Linked DNA regions of Homo sapiens. The protein of the gene in region 6 interacts with the protein of the main gene of each other region in a pairwise test. Each region holds a gene or a part of one and is shown on either strand. Other genes may lie near its edges. The genes, in order: SPIRE1, THEM4, SERBP1, PCSK7, WT1, PECAM1 and BOK.

Region 1 (3,052 bases), on a different chromosome or scaffold from region 6:
CTGCATTCTAGTGCAAAACATCTGAAGAGCTGTACACCCACAAGGGTGACTATTTCCCCTGAGTGGCCGTGTTGTCCCAGTGCCCTGGTTCAGTGTCTCCTGAGTGGATGACAGGTCTTCATTCTCTATCTTGAATGTATTATGGTTACTAATAGTTTTATAATGGAGGTCTAAGAATTAAAGTTGTGTGGGAGTTTCAGGACAAAGGAAGGCTAAAAGTTTGTCAAGACGTTGAGCGTATTTTGGTTACCTATGAGAAGGGTTGTGACAGTGTACAGTGGCAGCTGTTGGCCACGCTGCAGAAATGAGCTGGAGCTCATGGGTTTTCAGCTACATTTTTCATAACTTTGTAGTACATCCATCTTGAGTAAATTAAGCCACAATTTGGTACCTAGGGTCTCAAACTAAAATTTATTTTTATAAATGAATTTTAAAAGAAAAAATATCTACTTCTTTTAAAGTTAGAAGAAAATTAACCTGCTGACAGGCAACATTTTTGGGGTGCTTTCTGCACTAGTTTTCCTTGTAAATGATTTGAGTGAGTAGGTTTGGTTTCTGACGAAAGTAGACTGGAGGGTAGCATTGTATGCCTCAAATGTCTCAGTGTGTTTGGCTCATACGTGGGCTATACTGTATTATTTTGGTATGCTTACAAATGACTAACCAATCAAATTGTCATTAATGTTTGGAAAATCTGTTAATGCACATGCACAATAATTTCCTGAAAGCCATAGGACATGTCTGTAGTCAGCACCACGATAGCACCGTTTCATGAAAGGCATGGCGGCTGCATTTCATACCACATCAAAATACAGTAACATTTCTATACTAAATTAACAGTAATACCTCAAAACTGCTCCGGTAGTAGTTTTTAATGGATTGAAATTTACAGTTTAGTAAAAGGCTTAAAATTACTTATACTTATGAAATAAACTTTACCAGTTGACTAAAATAATGCATGTTAACAGTTGGTCTGTATTTGCATGTAAAAGTGGGCCACCAGAGAACCCTTATTGATTACTTAAGTGTTTACATTATTTTAAAGACTCCTGTTTAAGAGCTTTCAGAATTGTACTGGGTGAATCTCATTTATAAAACTTCCTAAGAGACTATCTGAACTCTATACTCCAGACAGTTAGGTGGGAGTATAAATCTACCCCTTTTGATGACCCCAGGCTTGAGTTTTTAAAATGACTACCCAGAAGGGCACAAGGGGGAAGGAAATGGTATTTGTATATGTATATAAATATGCACCTAGGAGAATGTGCTTTTTAAAATAATGACTACTGTTTTTATTAAAACATAAGAAACTACACCCCCAAAATAAGACTTTCATTCACATTCACAAAGCAAACATCTAGTACATGTCTTTCACTTCACTTTATGATAGTGTATTGGATGATTTGGGCATTACGATCACCTCTTACCACAGCACAGAACATACATTCTTCAACAGCATTAACGGAGTTTGCCAAGTGCATTAAAGAGGTCACGTGGAGGGTACGTTCATATGAAACAATCTGCAGAAAGTGGGGTAAGAAAGGGCACATGGCACAGTTAAAGTTGTAGAAATCAAATTACTATCATTTTTTGTTGCCAAAACAAAGTCTTACATTTAACCCCCCTTTCTACCACCCCCCTCCACACTTCACGTCAGCTACATAGTTTCCACAGGGTAATTCACTAAGAGCTTGTGGAGCTTGGTTTTAAAATCCTTAGCCTGGTCTGACTTTAGGCATAGCTTCCAGTTCTTCCTTCCGTGTCCTGGTTTCTTGTTCAGTTTTACTTCTAATCCAACAACAAAAGAAATGTCTGGCTGGTCTCAGCTAGAGTCTGATGTGTCTTAGAGCATGTGTGCGTATCTGAACCATCATCCCTGCTCTCATCTCAGCTCCCTCCAGGCCTGAGCACCGGTTCCTTTTGTCCCATACGTCATGAAGTCACACTATTGGGAAACCTGTGCTTCCCTCTCCATGGCTTAACTCCCTGTCAGTGTCGGAGTGTATAAGAATGCTTGTAAATACTGTAATATATTTATTAATATTTGAAAGGCATTCATTCAGTGGACAGTGGGAATTAACTCTCCCAAGGCAAGTGAAAATGAATGATTGACGTACGTTGATTTAACAATCTTACTAGATTTTAATTCTTAAGGATTTCAAATGAAACCAGAAGGTGGTTATGTAAGAGGCTTAAAATGATCTTATGTTTAAAGAGATTCTGTTATTAGCACCATGAACTCGTACTATGAAATTTTTAAGCCTTTTATTTTTCTAACTATATTACTGTAGGACTGGATATTAGGTGTCATATAGGAAACACAAAAGTTTATTGCTGTTTGCTAAAGCAAAATAGCAGAAAATTTTGTATATGCAAAACTGTTGAAGGACCATAGAGAAATGTGTACTACTGACGGGGCTTTTACTAGGCTTCCTGCGTGTGTAAAAGTCGAGGTATTGCTGGCATTCAGGGTGACATGATGGTACTAAATGTTTTCCATTAAAGTCTTCTATTTTAAAATTTAGAGAAAAATAAAATGGCTTTCCATCAGACTTTCTGTGTTGAGTTGCTATCGTAAGACGGTGATGTCTTTTGGTAATTAGCTGTCAGAAATCACCTCAATTGGGAAGGCAGGGTACTTTTATAAGCAGCCTGTGATCTTTGAAGAAATACAGTCTAGGCCGGGCATGGTGGTTCACGCCTGTAATCCCAGCACTTTGGGAGGCTGAGGCAGACGGATCACCTGAGGTCAGGAGTTCAAGCGATTCTCGTGCCTCAGCCTCCCAAGTACCTGGGATTACAAGTGCCCGCCACCATGCCCAGCTAATTTTTGTATTTTTGTACATGGTGGCCAACATAGTGAAACCCCATCTCTACTAAAAATACAGAAATTAGCCAGGCGTGGTGGTGTGCTCCTGTAATCCCAGCTACTGGGGAGGCAAGGCACAAGAATCGCTTGAACCCGGCAGGTGGAGATTGCAGTGAGCTGAGATTGTGCCACTGTACTCCAGCCTGGGTGACAGAGCAAGACTCCGCCTCAAAAAAAAAAAAA
Region 2 (3,504 bases), on a different chromosome or scaffold from region 6:
AGAGTTTTTTGTTTGTTTGTTTTTGAGACAGAATCTCACTCTGTTGCCCGGACTGGAGTGCAGTGGTGCAGTCTTGGCTCACTGCAACCTCCACCTCCCTGGTTCAAGCAACTCTTGTTCCTCAGCCTCCCAAGTAGCTGAGACCACAGGCACACACCATCTCGCATGGCTAATTTTTGTATTTTTTGTAGAGATAGGGTTTCACCATGTTGGCCAGGCTGGTCTCAAACTCCTGACCTCAAGTGATCCACCCGCCTTGGCACCCCCAAAGTTCTGGGACTGCAGGTGTGCCACCACGCCTCAGCTTCCATAGAGTTTAGTTTTGATCTGTTTTGTTTAATTTTTATTTTTTAATTTTATTTTTCCATAAGTTATTCAGGTACAGGTGGTATTTGGTTACATGAGTAAGTTCTTTACACTAGTGATTTGTGAGATATTGGTGCACCCATCACCTGAGCATTATACACTGCACCATATTTATAGTCTTTTATCCCTTATCCCCCTCCCATTCTTCCCCCCAAGTCCCCAAAGTCCATTGTATCATTCTTATGCCTTTGCGTCCTCATAGCTTAGCTCTCCCATATAATTGAGAACATACAATGTTTGGTTTTCCATTCCTGAGTTACTTCACTTAGAATAATAGTCTCCAGTCTCATCCAGGTCACTGGGAATTTGGGTTGGTTCCACGATTTTGTGTTGGGCATTTGGGTTGGTTCCATGATTTGCAATTGGGGATGATGCTGCTATAAACATGCATGTGCAAGTATCTTTTTCGAATAATGACTTCTTTTCCACACTGTTTTCCATAGCAGCTATACTAGTTTACATTCCCACCAGCAGTGTAGAAATGTTCCTTGATCACTGCATCCACAGCAACATCTACTGTTTTTTGAGTTTTTTTATTATGGCAATTCTTGCAGGAGTAAGGTGGTATCGCATTGTGGTTTTGTCTGTTTGTGCTCTTTCAGACTTTTTGAGGTAGGCATTTAGGGCTATGAACTTTCCTCTTAGCACTGCCTTAGCTGTATCCCAGAGGTTTTGATAGGCTGTGTCATTATTGTCATTCAATCTGAAGAATTTTTTAAATTTCCATCTTGATTTCATTTTTGACCCAGTGCTCATTCAGGAGCATGGTTTTTTTGTTTTTTTTTTTTGTTTGTTTTTTTCTGAGACAGAGTTTCGCTCTTGTTGCCCAGGCTGGAGTGCAGTGGCACAATCTCAGCTCACTGCAACCTCTGCCTCCTGGGTTCAGGCAGTTCTCCTGCCTCGGTCTCCTGAGTAGCTGGGATTACAGGCGCATGCCACCACTCCTGGCTGATTTTTGTATTTTTAGTAGAGACTGGGTTTTGCCGTGTTAGTCAGGCTGATCTCGAACTCCTGACTTCAGGTGATCCTCCCGCCTCAGCCTCCCAAAGTGCTGGGATTACAGGCATGAGCCACAGCGCCTGGCCTATTTGCATGGTTTTGAAGGTTCCTTTTTGGAGTTGATTTCCAGTTTTATTCCACTATGGTCTGAGAGAGTGCTTGATATAATTTCAATTTTCTTAAATTTATGGAGGCTTGTTTATGGCCTATCATGATCTATCTTGGAGAAAGTTCCATGCACTGTTGAATAGAATGTGTATTCTGTGGTTGTTGGATGAAATGTTCTGTATGTATCTGTTAAGTCCATTTGTTCCAAGGTATAGTTTAAATCCATTGTTTATTTGTTGACTTTCTGTCTTGATGACTTGTCTAGTGCTATCTGCCAAGACCAGCTCAGTTATGGAGACCCTAACCCAGCAGTGCTAGAGAAATTAAAGACACACAGAAATATAGGGTGTAGAGTGGGAAATCAGGGGTCTCACAGCCTTCAGAGCTGAGAGCCCCTAACAGAGATTTACCCACATATTTATTGACAGCAAGCCAGTGATAAACATTGTTTCTATAGATTATAGATTTACTAAAAGTATTCCTTAGGGGAAACAAAGGGATGGGCCAAAACAAAGGGATGGGCTCTGGCTAGTTATCTGCAGCAGGAACATGTCCTTAAGGCACAGATTGCTCATGCTATTGTTTGTGGCTTAGGAACACCTTTAAGCGGTTTTCTGCCCTGGTTGGGCCAGGTGTTCCTTGCCCTTATTCCGGTAAACCCACAACCTTCAGCATGGGCATCATGGCCATCACGAATATGTCACAGTGCTGCAGAGATTTTGTTTATGGCCAGTTTTGGGGCCAGTTTATGGCCAGATTTGGGGGCCTATCCCCAGCAGCTGTCAGTGGAGTATTGAAGTCCCCCACTATTATTTTGTTGCTGTCTATCTCATTTCTTAGGTCTGTTAGTAATTGTTTTATAAATTTGGGAGCTCCAGTGTTAGGTGCATATATGTTTAGGATTGTGATATTTTCCTTTTGGACAAGGCCTTTTACCATTGTATAATGTCCCTCTTTGTCTTTTTTGACTGCTGTTGCTTTAAAGTTTGTTTTGTCTGATGTAAGAATAGCTACCTATCTCTGCTTGCTTTTGGTGTCCATTTGCATGAAATGCCTTTTTCCACCCTTTAAGTTTATTTGAGTCCTTATGTGCTAGGTGAGTCTCTTGAAGACAGCATATAGTTGGTTTGTGAGTTCTTATCCATTCTGCGGTTCTGTGTCTTTTAAGTGGAGCACTTAGGCCATTTACATTCAATGTTATTATTGAAATGTGAGGTGCCATTGTGTTCATTGTACTCTTTGTTGCCTGTGTACTGTGGGGTTTTTTTTATTTTTTGTTTTTGCTTTTTAACTTGTATTTTTGTTTTATAGGTCCTGTGTGATTTATGCTTTAAAGAGGTTCTGTTTTGATGGGTTTCTGGGATTTGTTTCAAGATTTAGAGCTCCTTTTAGCAGTTCTTGTAATGGTGGCTTGATAATGGCGAATTCTCTCAGTATTTGTTTGTCTGAAAAGGACTGTATCTTTCGTTCATATATGATACTTAGTTTCACTGGATACAGAATTCTTGGCTGATAATTGTTTTGTTTGAGGAGGCTGAAGATAGGGCCCCAATCCCTTCTGGCTTGTAGGGTTTCTGCTGAGAAATCTGCTGTTAAGCTGATAGATTTTCCTTTATAGGTTGCCTGGTGCTTCTTTCTCACAGCTCTTAAGATTCTTTCCTTTGTCTTAGCTTTGGATAACCTGATGACAATGTGTCTGGGTGCAGATCTTTTTGTGATGAATTTCCCAGGTGCTCTTTGTGCTTCTTGTATTTGCATGTCTAGATCTCTAGCAAGACCAGGGAAGTTTTCCTCGATTATTCCCCCAAATATGTTTTCCAAGCTTTTAGAATTGTCCTCTTCCTCAGGAAGACCAATTATTCTTAGGTTTGGTAGTTTAACAAAATCCCAGACTTCTTGGAGGCTTTGTTCATATTTTCTTGTTCTTTTTCTTTCTCTTTGTTGGATTAGGTTAATTTGCATTTCTAAAAGTGTGTCCAAAATTTCCTGAATTTTTTATTGTTTTTTCTTTAAGCTATTTCCTTGAATATT
Region 3 (3,051 bases), on a different chromosome or scaffold from region 6:
TAGTGAATCCCCGTCTCTACTAAAAATACAAAAAATTAGCCGGGCGTGGTGGCGGGCGCCTATAATTCTAGCTACTCAGGAGGTTGAGTCAGGAGAATTACTTGAACCCGGGAGGCAGAGGTTGCAGTAAACCGAGATCGCGCCACTGCACTCCAGCCTGGGCAACAGAGTGAGACTCATCTCAAAAACAAACAAACAAAAAACACGAAATTATGAATTTTCAGGGTAAGTACACAAACCAATTGTCTTATCTCTAAACAAAGATATGTGTTTAGTTCACACCAATCATGAAGGCCTAAACATGTCGTCATGTAATGGGAAAAATACAAAACCCACCCACTTTCAGTCCATTTCTTTCCAAAAGAACCCCAGCTGTCGGAGCACTCTGAAAATGTCTAGAAAATGTCTAAACACATGCTTATCTTAGTACTCTGAGTGCAGCTGCCATATGAAGCAACATTTCTTTGTGGGTTACGTGTAAAACAAAGAATTCAATATACAAAGTTCCCAAAATAAAACAAAAATTTACTTGGACGTTATTCATTGGCTAATAGAACATTTTAGTCCCAATCCAACAAAATTTTAGGCAAATGTCAAGAACCAAGTTAACCAAAACCGCTTTAAACAGAATCTTCATTCTAGGTATATAAAAACTGTTTCTTTAAATTAGAGATCTTTTTGGTCCTAAAATCTAGAACTGAATCAGCTACAACTGCAAACAAGGTGATTAGTGCAAAGTAATACAACTGTCCAAAGATAAGCTACTTCCCACTTTCCCTACTCAGTAATACATAAAAATCCTTAATATTAGCCCTTCACTTTCCATGCTTCCACCCAGTAACACCTAAAGCAACTATTTAAGGATTAAGCCACACAAGGTCAGAGTAATTGAGCACCTAGTATGAACCAATTATCTAAATAGATTTCTAAAAGTCCATAATGAATCAGAACTCAGATACAAAGTTACCACCAGGCATCTTTTATATATACTTTCTTGCATATACAAGTCTCAAGAAGAGTAATGTCATACAAGAGCACTAGGAATTGCCACATACTCCCAAATGGGCAGCAAAAGGAACAAACATTACTGATTTAAAACAGTATATACATACTAACTCAAAAAAATAATTCGGTAAATCATTTTCTAACTTGTGTGGGTAACTTTTTCCCTTCCATTTAGAAGTGAACAATTGGCTACCAGTTTAGTACAGAAGTAATCAACAGCACAAAAGCTAAATTCTGTCCAAATGGGAATTCTAAGCTCAAAAAAAAAAAAAAAAAGATGCAATCTCCAGGAGCCATTAATTTCTGCCCCAGCTCAACCTATGGAATTTACCTATATGAAGTGTTCATAATTCTCATCTCATAGAAAAACCTCTTTGCACAACGCAAAGGACTTACACAAAGGGATCTGAGTCACTAAATGTGAAATACTAATCATGGTATTTTTTAACAGATTATACACCCCTTAACAGCTTTCAAAATATATTTTATGTTGCAGGCTACCTATCTAAAAAATAATAAAACATGTTTTACTAACAAGTTTTATCTTGCCCTTACTTTGATTATATAGAGGTGTAAAGTATGCTTTAAAATTACTTCTAATTTCACAGCTTCCTGTTGGGTAGACCACTTAATTTGTACCTAGAACTAAACTTTTATTTTTCAGACAGTGTGTCACCCAGACTGGAGTACAGTGCTATGATCTTGGCTCACTGCAACCCCCACCTCCCGGGTTCAAGTGATTCTTGGGTGTGGTGGTGTACACCTGTAAAATTAGCTGTCTGTGGTGGTGCACACCTGTAATCCCAGCTACTCAGGAGGCTGAGGCAGAATTGCTTGAACCCGGGAGGTGGAGGCTGCAGTGACCTGAGATCATGCCACTGCACTCCAGCCTGGGTGACAGAGCCAGACTGTTTCAAAGAAACAAACTCTTGTAACCCGAGAGTGACAGTTCCGGGGTCAGCAAACATTTCTGTGAAAGGCGGTATCTTATGCTGGGCTGCCTACATTTTTCTGTGGGTTTTTTTTTTTTTTAATCCTATACAAGCCTAAAAACCATTCTTAACTCAGGGACACGGACACACACACACACACACACACACACACACACACCCCCACACACACCAGGTCACAGGCTGAACTTTGCTGACCCCTGGCTTACATACAGCATCTCATTTAAATGGCGCTCATTTCCAGTGTTCATATTTTCATCTGTGGCCAAAATCATGATGGCTTTAGCAATTTATATTCTAACCATTTCCTAAACTTAAGCTTCTCATGTTTAGATTACAACCTTGTTTTCACTATATTCTTGAAATTACCGACTTCCTCAGCCTGAAAGATTTATTTCAATCACTTCACATAACCTCCAAATTTGAACTTAAAAGTCAAGGAAGATGAAGAGGTAATCCCAGGGCACAGCTTAGGCCAAATAACCCAAATTTCTGGGAAGCTGCCACTTACTATTAACTCAACCTGACAATTATCTTGCAAATGATATTGATAAATCATTTAATTACTATGGTCCAGTTCAAATATGTATCATTTTACTGCCTTGTTACCAGTTATGCCATACAAAGCACAGTAAATAATGAAGTTTCTGGGCTTTTCTTAGTTAACCTGAAGATCTCGCTGGTACATGTTCAGACTTGCTAAAACTTATTTACATATTTGTCTCAGTATAATCCAAAACGTCTGGGTTATAATCTATTTTCTAAGTGTTTACTTTAGAAAGTAAAATTGCATGCACCTGAGATCCCTGGAATTTGCTATACCATTGGACTGGAGGTCCACTAATATACCTGAATAATCTTACCTCTAAGGTCAACATCAGTTAGGTTCTAGTAACTTCCTATTTCTCATTCCTTTGAACCTTTTAACACCTGTTGTTTCCTTCCACATGATGGTACTTTCCTAAAGACATGTTAGGTTGGTACAAAACCAATTGCACCAACCTAGTATTTTCGAAATCCAATACACATTTAGGCTTTGTATGCAACTCCCTGTTCTATTTCAGTGCAACCATCTCTGGCAACTAGAAAAATAACA
Region 4 (3,504 bases), on a different chromosome or scaffold from region 6:
GAGAGAGAAAAATCAGTCTTGCTCTTTAGCAGCACTTCTCAATATGGTAGCCCTTAGCCACACATGGCTATCTAAATTAAAATGAAGTATAACAAAATTAAAATTTAGCTCCTTAGTCATACTAGCCTTATTATTATTATTTGAGATGGAGTCTTGCTCTGTCATCCAGGCTGGAGTGCAATGGCACAATCTTGGCTCACTGCAACTTCTGCCTCCCAGGTTCAAGCAATTTCCCTGCCTCAACCTCTTGAATAGCTGGGACTACAGGCACGTGCCACCATGCCTGGCTAATTTGTGTGTGTGTGTGTGTATATATATATATATATATATATATACTTTTTTTTTTTGAGATGGAGTCTCGCTCTGTTGTCTAGGCTGGAGTGCAGTGGCACGATCTTGGCTCACTGCAAGCTCCGCCTCCCTGGTTCACGCCATTCTCCTGCCTCAGCCTCCCGAGTAGCTGGGACTACAGGCACCCACCACCACGCCTGGCTAATTTTTTTGTATTTGTAGTAGAGATGGGGTTTCACCGTGTTAGCCAGGATGGTCTCGATCTCCTGACCTTGTGATCCACCCGCCTCAGCCTCCCAAAGTGCTGGGATTACAGGCGTGAGCCACCGTGCCCAGCCAATTTTTGTATCGTTTTTTTTTTTTTTTTTAGTAGAGTCGAGGTTTCACTCTGTTGGCCAGGCTGGTCTTGAACTCCTGACCTCAAGTGATCCGCCCCTGCCCTTGGCCTCCCAAAGTGCTGGGATTATAGGCTAGGTATGAGCTACCACGCCTAGCCTATTATTATTTTTGAGACAAGGTCTCGCTCTGTCACCCAGGATGGAGAGTGCAGTAGTGCAACCATGGCTTACTGCAGCCTTGGCATCCTGGGCTCAAGGAATCCTCCTGTCTCAGCCTCCCAGGAGGCATGCACCACCACACCTGGCTAATTTTATTTTTTGTAGAAATAGGGTCTCACTATGTTGTTCAGGCTGGTCTTGAACTCATGAGCGTAAACAATGCTCCTGCCTCAGCTTCCCAAAGGGATTACAGGTGTGAGCCACCATGCCCGGCCAACTGGTCATGTTTTAAATGTTCAATAGACTCAGATGACTAGTGACCACTGAACTGAGCAGCATGGACATGGAACAGTTCCATCATTGCAGAAAATTCTTTGGGACAATGCTACTCTAGAGTCTTAGAGGTATTTAGCCTCCTCTTCTATCTCAGGGATGTTCAGCTCCCTCTGCTTTATAAAAAGTTCACTTTCCAGCCCCCAGACACTGAATCAACCAGGTCCTGGTGGAAAACAACCATAACTTGGCTGTAGAAGGGGTTTCTTGACTTCCTGGGACTGAGCTGCTCAACTCTCAATTTTTTTTTTTTTTTTTTTTTTTGAGATGGAGTTTCCCTCTTCTTGCCCAGGCTGGAGTGCAATGGTGCGATCTCAGCTCACTGCAACCTCTGCCTCCCGGGTTCTCCTGCCTCAGCCTCCCAAGTAGCTGGGACTACAGGCATGAGCCACCACACCCAGCTAATTTTGTATTTTTAGTGGAGATGGGGTATCACCATGTTGGTCAGGTTGGTCTCAAACTCCTGACCTCAGGTTATCTGCCTCCCAAAGTTCCCAAAGTGCTGGGATTACAGGCATGAGCCAGGGCACCTGGCTCAACTCTCATTTTAACTGGACTTATTTCTTTCAACCTCCAAGCAAGCCCACAAACTTATTTGTTCTGTTTTTGTCTGCTCAGAGGAAAATGTGGTCATGTTGGAGGAGAAGGCAACTTCACTGGCTCTGAAAAGCCAATGAAAATAGTACTTTGCAAAAAGTTGTGAATAACTCTGCATGTCAAAATTACTCAAGGCAAAAAAACAAAAACAAAAATGAAACAAAACAAAAAATCCCCCAAGGAGCTGGGGGTAGGGAAAACTCTGGTAAAACTTTTGCTTGCTGCCCTTCCAACAGGTAAAGGGCTCCATTAGCCAAACTCCCTAAATCTTTCCCTCCCTTCTCTTAATCCTGCTTTCTCCACTAGGCCACCTCCCACTCTTCTCCACCCAGGCAATCTGTCCTTCTTTCTCTTACTTTTTAGTGACAAGCAAGCAGTTGCCAGATGCCTCAATGCCTAGGGTAGACATTCCGTGGCAACGTCCCCTGGTCAGCAGGAAGCAGAGGATGACGAAGCTGGGAAGACCATATTACTCTTTTAAGTCACTGCCCTCATTTGACAGATGCAACAGGAAATAGCCCTGGATAGAAGGTAAAGTTGAAGGCACACTATCTCTAAGACACGCAAGTGCAAAGCCAGGGGCTTCCAAATGAACTGCATTCCTGGAAATGTTTCTGAACTTCTCTGACTTGGCTGACGCTTTATGCCCTTTCCAAGATAACATTCCTTTTATGGGAAATGCAGTGACTGGCCCAGGGGTTTCATTCCACATTGAGGGAAATTGGGCAAGTGCTGGATGTGGTTAGGAGGAGAAAACTCAATTCTTCTCTGTGAAACCTTCACCTGAGGGAAGCCACCCCTCATCCTCCCTTCTGAGTAACCTTCTCTGGCCATTCCTTCTCCTGCCATGGCTCTCAATTGATCACTTTCTAGGAGGACAGAAAAAGTGAAGACAGTTTTGGTTTGGGCACTAAGCATAGCATACTTCCTTTGCAAAAAGTAGTAAATGACTCCAGGAAAAAGAATCCCCCAAGGAGCTGGGGGTAGGGAAAACGCTGGTAAATGTGCAGACAGGGCATCCTCTGCACAAGCATCCTGATCCAGCTGCACTCTCCTCTAGGGAGGGCGTCCGCCTCTTCGCTCAACATAAAACCAGGTCGCTGGCTTAGAGGATACAACCCCTTCAGACAATCCTGGTTCATGCTGGCCACCATGGAGGCGGAGGCAGAGGATGGGTCACTAAAGCCTAGGAGACTTCTACAAACCCTCTGTCCATCCCCAGCAGACCACATCTGACTCTCTCTATTAGGTAAGCCAGAGAATCAAAGGAAGAAATGCCTAACTCCTTTACTTCATCCAGACACCCGAGGACTGACCAGAGTTCTCTGGCAAGATCTTAGCATGGAAGTCACAGGAGCTTCTCTGAGCTCTCACCCCGGTCTCGCCTGACCTCCCCAAGCCCCAGTCCCATGCCTCCCACCCGCCCTCCTCCTCAGTTGCTCTGCTGCTCCTTTTCACTACTAGGAACCCAGGAGAAAGGTCTTGTTTAAGCAGCTGGGGGAGCCAACTCAGAAGCAGTAACATGTCCTAAAATGGTCAAAGAAAACTCCACAGGTTTGGCTGGAGCTCAGCTCCGAAAGGGGGTAGAATCTGGCAGGGAGGACGAGTTTAACTTCCTTGTCACCCGGCCCCAAACCTCAGGCCTAAGATTAACCCCCTTTGTGCTGATTACTTACCATTCCACAGGACCTCCAGGGAACGGGGGGACTGCGGAATCGCCTTGTTTTCTTTTAACACGGGACTGACGTAGGATGCTAAGTAAGGGACAGATGTCCAGATCTATGAA
Region 5 (3,504 bases), on a different chromosome or scaffold from region 6:
AGGCTTTTGGGGGGAGTTTTAATTTCCTTCTCTGCGTAGTTGTATTTTCTAACTGTTCTATAATTTATACACATTACTTACATAATAAAAAAATTCAATACATTCATCAAATGCATGTCCAAAAATAAAAGGATAGAAAAGGCCAACAGCCAGGGAGGAGAAAGAAGAAGCAGAAAAGTGAGAAGCAAAGGAAAGAAGCTTCCGAATCAGTCCACACTAAGTGAGAGGGACACAGAGCTAAGTCACGAGTCTCCATCTTTATCAAACCCTGGAGTCCCATTCTTCGTTCTGGTTGGCAGGGTTAACAGACCTCAGGCCAAGTCCAATGCAAGGCAATAATAAAGAAAAAAAACTCTTTAAATGGCATTAAATGAAACTTTAAACGGTGGAAAATTAATAACTTGTTGCTGGGGGTGGAGATGGAGTAGGCTCGGCAATGCTGATATTCACAGAACTGAGGCTCCCCACCTTCACTTTGCATCTCAGGCTCCGGGAGCCACTTAAAAGCAAGCTATCTATTTCCAAGAAGTAAATCTCTTGGACGGATACCTTATGTTCACGAGCCCGCGAGGGAAGGTGCTGGGCTGTGTATTGGAGCTCCCAGCCAGAGAAGACAGCTATCTCTTTTGGCACAGGTTCTCAGGGATGAGACCATGTCTAGCGGGGATTTTCTCCAGATTCGACAGCCTTGGCCCTACCAAAACGCACAGCTTTGTTTTCACCACACATCACTCATTGTTGAGTCTTTTTTGTTTTTCCTCTCAAGCATCCACAGGTTGAATACTGTGTGTTCCCAACAGCCTGTGAACTTCTTGGACCAGCAAAGGGACATTCATTTTGCTGAGCACTCCTTTCACATTTCTATTGTGTTCGATTTCCCACTCCCCCTACCCGAGTCCCCAGAGAATAACTTCTTCCTTGTTTTAATAACTTGGATCACAGTCAAGGTTGATGTGTTTCTCCATTTTGCAGGATATTTTCTTCAGAAGAGACAAAACAGAGGCCAACAGGGTAGGAGAGGCTTGTTCGGAAATCAGCAGCCATTGAGAACACACAGAAAATGTTTTCAAAGAAATAGAAAGCAGATAACACAAGGCACCATCAATAGAAGGCTTCAAAATGGTGGACTCATACTCAGAAAGATTCCCCAGCAACGTTTTCTCCCAGGGACCCACTTTAAAAATCTAATTTCATTTGTTTGGGGGTGAGGGAGAAGAAAGTACTTTCCGTAAAGTACCTTCTCACTGACTTAAATTGAAATACATTCTCCCATTGGAGGTCATAAAAGTAGCTGTGATCCCAGTGGGTATGCAGAAATTAGAAAATGAGTAAAGGGAGAAGGAGGAGAAAGGAGCGGTTCAGTCACACAAGTATATCCCACCTCTAACACAGCAAGTTTTCATTTCATCTGCCCATGTTCTTTATAAAATCCTATCCCCACCCATTGTAACACTGCTCCCTGACATCTAATGAAAGATGTCTCCGTGGACTTGCTTGGGATACAAGGAAACAAACCTATTCTTTGTGAAGCCACTTTTTTGAAACGAAACATTTTCAAGGAAAGAAGACCCGAACCAGCATTTAGTGGGGTTTAGTCTGAGGTGCATGATCTTTTAATAAAAAATTGATAATGCCTCTTTTTTATGAGTGATATGGAAATTACATCTTTCTTCTCTAAAACATGAACCAAATCACCAGTTTTTCCTGTAATAGATCAACCTTGTCACATGATTTTTCTTAACATTGATTTCAAACAGTGTCAAGACACTAGTTATGAATGAACACAAAAAGTTATGTGTCTGAATTTGTCTTCATGGAATACCTTTTCTCAAATGTATTCTCCATATTAATACTTTTCATACCATGGCAAAAGAAAGTAAATCCAGTATCACAAAGAACAATGACCCCAACCCAGATTGGTCTCCCCTGGGGAAAGGCCAAACTTTCTACTGGAATTACAGATTCAACTAAATCCAGTTCTGGGCTGTTCATGAGTTTGGAGGAGACAGCCAAGGTGTCACCATGTTTGAATGCTAAAAGTGAGGCAAACTGTGGGTCATGACACATCAGTGGGTTGTAAAATCAATCTAGTACATCACAATCAGCATTTTAAAAAATGAAATAGGATAGAGAGAAAAAGTCAGCATGCAGAGCATGTCATAAGAGTATTGCTCAGTGAAAATCTATGTTGTGTGTGTGTATGTGTGTGCACATGTGTGTATATGGGATCTCACTGTAAAGGGTATTTCTAACTGTGGTCACAGTCTAAAAGGTTTCCACCCATTTAAGAAGCTCTAATCTAGGGCCCAGGTCCTGGAGTCAGACAGAACTGATTCCAACATGGCTCTGCCACTCACTTACTATGTGACCTTGGTTAGATAGCTTAATCTCTCCACCTCCTCAGCTAAAAAATTGGATGTGGCCATAGTGTCCTGGGGGTGTTGTAAGATCAGATCAGAAGAGGAAACATGTACAGCCCCTCACACGGCACCCAATACTGTTTATATACATCCTTAGATAAATGTCCAGTTCACAAAATGGAAGCGGAAATTCGTGGATTTACAGTATGTTCTACAGTGTGAGAGAAGATGGTAGGCAATTAGCTAATTGTAATTTTTGCTCTGCAAAACAGTTGTTCTTTTGTGGAACTATCTGTTGGGCCATCTAGCCCTTTTTATAACAGCTCCCTGAATAAAGTTAATATTCGAGAAATATACATATATATTGTGTTTGTTTGTTTTGTTTTGTTTTGTGGAAGGGTCTCACTCTATCGCCCAGGCTGGAATGCAGTGGCCTGATCTTGGCTCACTGCAACCTCCGCCTCCCAAGCTCAAGCAATCCGCCCACCTCAGCATTCCAAGTAGCTGGGGTTACAGGCATGTGCCACCACGTCTGGCTAATTTTTTTGTATTTTTTGTAGAGAAAGGTTTTCACCACATTGTCCAAGCTGATCTCAAACTCCTGAGCTCAAGTGATCCACCCACCTCAGCCTCCCAAAGTGCTGGGATTATAGGCGTGAGCCACCATGCCAGGCCAAGAAATACATTTTTAGTCAGGGCGCAGCAGCTCATACCTGTAATCTCAGCACTTTGGGAGGCCAAGTGTGGCGGATCGCCTGAGGTCAGGTGTTCAAGACCAGCCTGGCCAACATGGCGAAAACCTGTCTCTACCAAAAATACAAAAATTAACCAGGTATGGTGGCAGATGCCTGTAATCCCAGCTACTCAGGAGGCTGAGGCAGGAGAATCACTTGAACCCAGGAGGCAGAGGTTCCAGTGAGCCAAGATCGTGCCACTGCACTCCAGCCTGGGTGACAGAGTGGGACTCCATATCAAAAAAAAAAAAAAAAAGAAATACATTTTTATTTCAGAAATCCTTTCTAAGATGTAAGTAACGGACCAATGAAAACTCTTCTCATTTTTTTCTTATGTAGGATTGAACAGAACAAATTGTTCACACTTTGTGCTTCATCCTTATAATACAGCTTCTGCCTCCTCAGCAAGT
Region 6 (3,504 bases):
AGCCTCGGCCCTTTCCCTTCCTTCCATCTCAGGCCTCTTTGTTCCCCTCCAGCCCGCACCTCACTGCAGCTGCCTCACCTCAGGAGGTGACGGCTGCTCCATCTTCACCTAGAAAACAGTCATCTGGAGGGAACTCCCTCAACTTCCCGCCTGGGCCTGGCTGCAGGCTTATCAGCCTCTCCACCCATCCTCTCGGTTTCCCTCCCGGCCTCGGAGGACACATGCACCCTGCTCCTCAGCTGATGGGGGCCAGCCAGGCACTTAGGCTGAGACCCTTCCTCACCCCCAGGACCCCACGCCTACGTGCATTCAAGTCCCTCTCCCCTACCACCACTTCTAGAATCTCTATTTCTGCTTCTGGCTCTGTTCTCTCAGTGAATGGGAACTCTTTTTTTAGGAAAAAGAAAAATCACAAGCAGACACCCACCCCCACCGTTTATCTGGTGTCCCCCTATCTGGCCTTTCTAGTTTCCTTTCTCAGTCGAACCTCTCTGAAAGTTAGTTTATAATCTGTGCCTACCCACCTCACCTCTCAGACACGCCTCGCCTCCCAGCAGCCTGGCCTCAGGCCCCACTTCTCCGGCTGTTGGGTCTCCTCTTGCTGAGGGGTCACCAAGGACCACCTGATGCCAAATGCAACGGACACTTCCAGCCCTCGGCTCCCTGTACCCCTTTCCTGCCTTTGACTTTTGATCGTGCCCCAAAGCCTCGCTCCTTGACCTTTTCCATCCTCTTCCCTGCTTTGTCTCCTCACTCTCTAACAAACCCTCTTCCTTCTCCCCCATGGCTGACTTTGGACTTACTTTGTCTTCTCCTGGAGTCTGAACCCTGTCCTGGTCTCTGCGGGCTCCTGGTCTTATCCTCCCTGGAGACCAGCTCCCCTCTCAACACCTCCACATTCCCCCCTCCTCCCCTAAGTTCACACTCCTCCCACCTTCACAGTCCAGCCCTGGCCTCTGCCCTGAGCCTCCAGTTAACACAGGCTGACCTTTGATGTCTCCTCCCAGTCCTCCTACTGGCCCCTCACACGCAGCTGCACCACCATCACTTTGTCTTCCTTCCTTATCTTTTTCTGTTTGTTTGTTTGTTTTTGTAGAGACTGGGGTCTCATTTTGTTGCCCAGGCTGGTCTCAAACTCCTGGGCTGAAGCCATCCTCCTGCCTCGGCCTCCGAAAGTGCTGGGATAACAGATATGAGCCACCACACCCAGCTGCGTGTGGCATTTTCTATTTTAGTTTGGTGGCACACACATCCTCCTGGGAATCTAATCCAGGAAGTTTATCTTCCATTCTTTCAACCCCATATCCAATCAAACAAAGTCTTTTTTTAAATTGTGGTAAAATACAAATAATATAACATTTATTATTAATGACATTTAGTACATTCACGGTGTTGTGCAACCATCACCATTGTCTAATTCTAGAACATATTCTTTCTTTTTCTTTTTTTTTTTTTTTTGACAGAGTCTCACTCTTGTTGCCCAGGCTGGAGTGCAGTGGTTGGATCTCAGCTCACTGCAACCTTCACCTCCCAGATTCAAGCAATTCTCCTGCCTCACCCTCCTGAGTAGCTGCAATTACAGGCACGAACCACCATGCCCGGCTAATTTTTGTATTTTTAGTAGAGACAAGGTTTTGCCATGTTGGCCAGGCTATTCTCAAACTCCTGACCTTAAGTGATCCACCTGTCTTGGCCTCCCGAAGTGCTGGGATTCATTCTAGAACATTTTCAACACCCCAGAAACAAGTCCTGTTGAGTCCACTCAGGAGATCCCCAGCCTATCCTTCCCTCATCCCCACTGCACCCGCCTAGCTCAGGCCTCATCAGCTTTCACCTGAACCACTTCCAAGCTGTTTACTGGCCTTGGGTGCTGTCACACCCCTCCTGACACCCTCAGGACAGGGCCCAGCTTGTCAGCACAGCAGGCCAGCCCTCCATTCTGGCACGACAGACCCAGCCACCTGGCCTCTCTAGCCCCACACTCTGGTTTCTGTAATGGGCCATGCCCAGAAGGCACGGATTTCTCACACCCTCGTGTCCTGGGACACGCTGTTCTCTTACCTGGAGTACCCCACTGCCTGTCCTTGGCCTGGCAGGCTCAGTTCAGTGGTCACTTCCTTCAGACTCCTTGACCTCTCCTGGGCAGCCCTTCCTCTTGGTGCTTACTGATATCACTGGAGTCCAGCTATGTGGGCCCCAGCAACCTTTGCTGTTTGGGACAGCAAGGATGATTTCTTACTTACTCTGTCAGCCCAGCACCTGGCACAGGTTCTCGACACATGTCTCATTGGATGGGAACTTGAACTGAACTTGGAGATGCTTGAGATTCGGGTAGGAAGATGGCTCAGCATGCTCTCTGATGAGCACAGAAGTTCATCAGGGACTCTATGCTTCGTGGCTCCCAGTAATTTTCCTGACGAGGGTGGGCAGCCCCTCCTTCTCCTGCACCCTCCACTTTCTCTCTGAGTCATTTCCAGGTTGAGGGCCAGGGGGCTGGCTGACTGATGGTGCCGCATGTTTCCAGGGAGCACCACCATCCACTGATGAGTGGCCTTGAGGTCAAGGTCCCACTGTTTTTAGCATGTTGGGGTTTGGCACTGTGGTCACTGGCTGTTCCGTGGTGACTTTCCAAATTTAGATCCTTCTCCGTCAACCTTCATCTCCCCGGGTTGAAAAGATCTGACCTCTTTAGGCTGTCCCACAGCCCCACCCTTCATCACAATAGTCCTGAAACTTTTTGGGTTCAGTAAGGAAATCTGTGGGCCTTCTCTCCAGAAAAAGCACACATTTGCACACAATTGGAGGTAGTTGATGAGCCTCCTAACACCCACCCATGCACCTCCCAGGGGCTGTGTCCCCCAGGTTGTGAACAGTCACTCTGTGTAAATAGTGAGACCTACAGGCAGTAATTCAGTTTGGCTGTGCTTGGCTGGTTTATTTAGAAAGATGATAATGTTTTCCATATTATCAAAACAAGAATCAGGCAGAGACTTTTGAAGTTTGGTTGCGTGGTATATTTGTTACCTATTGCTGCATAACAATTTACCTAAAACTTACTGGCTTAAGATAACACAGATTTATTATCCTGAAGTTTCTGAGGGTCAGGAATGCAGGAGTGGCTGAGTTGGGTGGTGCTGGCACCGGGTCTCATTAGATTGCAGATAAATTGTTGGTCAGGGTTGCGGTTATCTGAAGGCTTGACTGAGTCTGGGGAATCTGCTTCCAAGCTCACTCCTGTGGCTATGGGCTGGAGGCCTTAGTTCCTCATCCTGGGTACCTTCCACAGGGCTGCTTATGCTATGACTGCTGGCATTCCCCAGAATGAGGGATCCCAGACAGGAGAGAGAGTGATCAGGATAAAAGCTGCATTGTCTTTTATTACCTGATGGAGTATTTTGTTGGTTAATGTTAACGTGGGAGGTGACCACGTGTAAGTGTGATGAGCAGAGGGCAAGGACCATTGGGGGGGGCATCTTGAAGGGCTTCTATAGCAAGGGAGGTGGT
Region 7 (2,948 bases), on a different chromosome or scaffold from region 6:
AGGCCACAGGTCCAGGCTGCAGGGAAAAGCCTTCATGTATTAGCAGGAAGTGAAGGGAATAAGAGAATTGGACGTTCATTCACTTCCCCAGAAGGAACTTCAGAGTCCAGGGAGTCCGTGGGCTTCCGGAAACGCAGTCCCTGCTGTTGTTCCAGGCAGAGTCTGAATGAAGCTGGGTTTGCCCCTTCCTGGTAGCCCAGGCTCCAAGGCCCCACAGGAGGATGACGGCGGCATACCTGTAGCCCCTGGGGGGCAGCAGGCAGGTGGCCGAGGGGAGCTGGCACCCTGGTCTGGATGTCTGGAGCCCCAGCGAGGGCCATGAAGGCCTCTCTCCTGCTCGGCAGGGGCCCTCCGGCCGGCCTGCCTGGCTGCCATCTGTCCCCACCTCCCGTGCCTCCTGGCCCTTCACACTGTCTGAATGTGCACGGCATCGGGTCTGGTCTTGTGTTGGAGCCTTCAGTCCAGGCCACAGACCTCCTTCCCGAACAGTCTCCTGCATTCCCTTCATGCAATTTTGCTGATATTCTGGTGCACGGTGCTGGGGGGCCTGGCGGTGCTGGGGGCCTGGCGGTGCTGGCTCTGCTTTCTAACGGTCTCCCTCTTCCCTCCCAGACTGATGTCCTCAAGTGTGTGGTCAGCACAGACCCTGGCCTCCGCTCCCACTGGCTGGTGGCTGCACTCTGCAGCTTCGGCCGCTTCCTGAAGGCTGCCTTCTTCGTGCTGCTGCCAGAGAGATGAGCTGCCCACCTGGCAGTGGCCGCAGCCTGGCCCTCTGGGCCCAACGCAGGAGGCCCTCAGCACCCGAACACATCTTCCTCCTCCCCACCCGAGCCTGGAGCACTCTAACCCTCGGAGACCCCCTAAGCCCCGTTCCTCCGCAGACCCAGGCCCTCCGGAAGGGGTGAGTGGGGAGGGGCTTTCCTGAGCCTGGAGCTGGGCTTTGGGGCAGCCTGCGACCCTCCCCGCTTGTGTCCCTTCTCCTGTGATCTCTGTGTTTTCCCTTTTCTTTCTGGGGCCAGGAAGTCAGGGTCAACTCCCAGGCCTCAGATGCAGGGGCCCAGAACACCTGCTCTCACCTGAGCCCCAGGTGAAGGGGCCCGGGAACACCTGCTCTCACCTGAGCCCCAGGTGAAGGGGCCCGGGAACACCTGCTCTCACCTGAACCCCAGGTGAAGGGGCCCGGAACACCTGCTCTCACCTGAGCCCCAGGTGAAGGGGCCCGGAACACCTGCTCTCACCTGAGCCCCAGGTGAAGGGGCCCGGGAACACCTGCTCTCACCTGAGCCCCAGGTGAAGGGGCCCGGGAACACCTGCTCTCACCTGAACCCCAGGTGAAGGGGCCCAGAACACCTGCTCTCACCTGAGCCCCAGGTGAAGGGGCCCGGAACACCTGCTCTCACCTGAGCCCCAGGTGAAGGGGCCCGGGAACACCTGCTCTCACCTGAGCCCCTGGTGAAGGGGCCCGGAACACTTGCTCTCACCTGAGCCCCAGGTGAAGGGGCCCGGAACACCTGCTCTCACCTGAGCCCCCGGTGAAGGGGCCCGGAACACTTGCTCTCACCTGAGCCCCAGGTGAAGGGGCCCGGAACACCTCCTCTCACCTGAGCCCCAGGTGAAGGGGCCCGGAACACCTCCTGTCACCTGAGCCCCAGGTGAAGGGGCCCGGGAACACCTCTCACCTGAACCCGGGGGTCCCATCCCAGGAAGAAGGGCCATCTCAGGACATGAGTCCTCAGGGGCCCTGCACATTCAATCTGAAGGTGACCCTGGCCTGGCTGAAGCTGGAAGAGCTGTGGGGACTCAGCCTGTAAACAGAGCGTAAGGTTCACATGCTGGTTGCTTAATCCGTTTCTGGAGGAAGAGTATGACACCCACTTGTGATGGGGTCCTTGTGCGGTGGGGACCGGGGCCGGCGGGCTCCAGGCCAGCACACCTAACCCATGGATGTGGAACCTACGGCCGAGAAGGAATGTTGCATGAGTCGGATCCCAGTCCATTGTCAGTGGAGGGTGAGGGTGACCCCATCTGCTATTTTTGTGCTCATCCTCATACAACCATTTGGGGATGTGCCTATTAGGGCTCCGTAAGAACTCAGATGCCTGGGAAGCCCAGCCCCTCAGGTGCCCCCACACACAGCCTTCCCTTGACGCCTACATTTCTAGGCACATGTGAGGCATCTTTCCTGGAGCCCCGAGCCAGCCCTGTCCCTCCCCAGTGCAGCATGGCACTCAGGAGATACAGGCTGGACATGGGGCAGTCGTTCTGGGGAGGCCTGGCCTAGCAGCCACCCACCTGAGCCCTCCCGGCCAGGCTTCGTGCTGGGGTGGGCCATGTGCCAGGACAGGAGGGTCCCGGCGGAAAGCCAGCCCCGGACTCATCGTGACATTGAGATCCCACTGGAGGGTAGGGGTGGTAATAAACTTCTCCAAACGATCGTTGTCATTTTAGACAGAATGTCACTGTGTGTGTGTTAAATAGCTTCTACCTATACACAACATGGTAAGAGGTGCGGAGGGTTTGCTTGAAAATAATTGAGGGTGGGGAGTGGCGAGAGGGTGGGGATGGGAGGGTTCCTGGAATTGGGTCTTTATCCTGATTAGATGTAAAGGCACTAATGCTGATTTCCAGTAGTAAAAAGAACACCGATAGTCCATAGTGTGATGTGGCAATAGAGGTATGCATAGTATCACCACTGGGTGCTCCTAATTAAATACTTGCAGAAGGCAGGGTTCTCGGTGGCTTTTGAACACTTTCATCAAACTAGAGTATAATGGGCCAGGACCAGTAGCTCACACCTGTCATCCCAGCACTTTGGGAGGCAGGAGGATGGCTTGAGGCCAGGAGTTCAAGACCAGCCTAGGCAACATAACAAGATCCCATCTCTAAAAAATAAAATTAGTCAAGCACGGTGGCCTGCACCTGTGGTTCCAGCTACTCTGGAGGCTGAG

What was found.
Region 1: the proteins of PECAM1 (region 6) and SPIRE1 interact in binary tests that used the Homo sapiens proteins (3 or more experiments, as listed by UniProt).
Region 2: the proteins of PECAM1 (region 6) and THEM4 interact in binary tests that used the Homo sapiens proteins (3 or more experiments, as listed by UniProt).
Region 3: the proteins of PECAM1 (region 6) and SERBP1 interact in binary tests that used the Homo sapiens proteins (3 or more experiments, as listed by UniProt).
Region 4: the proteins of PECAM1 (region 6) and PCSK7 interact in binary tests that used the Homo sapiens proteins (3 or more experiments, as listed by UniProt).
Region 5: the proteins of PECAM1 (region 6) and WT1 interact in binary tests that used the Homo sapiens proteins (3 or more experiments, as listed by UniProt).
Region 7: the proteins of PECAM1 (region 6) and BOK interact in binary tests that used the Homo sapiens proteins (3 or more experiments, as listed by UniProt).

The regions. Positions count from the first base shown.
Region 1 is NC_000018.10:12,446,012-12,449,063, reverse strand, and holds the end of SPIRE1 (protein spire homolog 1), read left to right. Parts: 3' UTR 1-2,552; downstream 2,553-3,052.
Region 2 is NC_000001.11:151,899,508-151,903,011, reverse strand, and holds part of THEM4 (acyl-coenzyme A thioesterase THEM4), read left to right. Parts: intron 1-3,504. UniProt on the Homo sapiens protein: Has acyl-CoA thioesterase activity towards medium and long-chain (C14 to C18) fatty acyl-CoA substrates, and probably plays a role in mitochondrial fatty acid metabolism. Plays a role in the apoptotic process, possibly via its regulation of AKT1 activity.
Region 3 is NC_000001.11:67,407,306-67,410,356, forward strand, and holds the end of SERBP1 (SERPINE1 mRNA-binding protein 1), read right to left. Parts: 3' UTR 505-3,051; downstream 1-504. UniProt on the Homo sapiens protein: Ribosome-binding protein that promotes ribosome hibernation, a process during which ribosomes are stabilized in an inactive state and preserved from proteasomal degradation.
Region 4 is NC_000011.10:117,215,072-117,218,575, forward strand, and holds part of PCSK7 (proprotein convertase subtilisin/kexin type 7 preproprotein), read right to left. Parts: intron 3,498-3,504; coding exon 3,395-3,497; intron 2,174-3,394; exon of another isoform or gene 2,075-2,173; intron 1-2,074. UniProt on the Homo sapiens protein: Serine endoprotease that processes various proproteins by cleavage at paired basic amino acids, recognizing the RXXX[KR]R consensus motif. Likely functions in the constitutive secretory pathway.
Region 5 is NC_000011.10:32,411,540-32,415,043, forward strand, and holds part of WT1 (Wilms tumor protein), read right to left. Parts: intron 1-3,504. UniProt on the Homo sapiens protein: Transcription factor that plays an important role in cellular development and cell survival. Recognizes and binds to the DNA sequence 5'-GCG(T/G)GGGCG-3'. Regulates the expression of numerous target genes, including EPO.
Region 6 is NC_000017.11:64,384,358-64,387,861, reverse strand, and holds part of PECAM1 (platelet endothelial cell adhesion molecule precursor), read left to right. Parts: intron 1-3,504. UniProt on the Homo sapiens protein: Cell adhesion molecule which is required for leukocyte transendothelial migration (TEM) under most inflammatory conditions.
Region 7 is NC_000002.12:241,571,685-241,574,632, forward strand, and holds the end of BOK (bcl-2-related ovarian killer protein), read left to right. Parts: intron 1-612; coding exon 613-738; 3' UTR 739-2,447; downstream 2,448-2,948.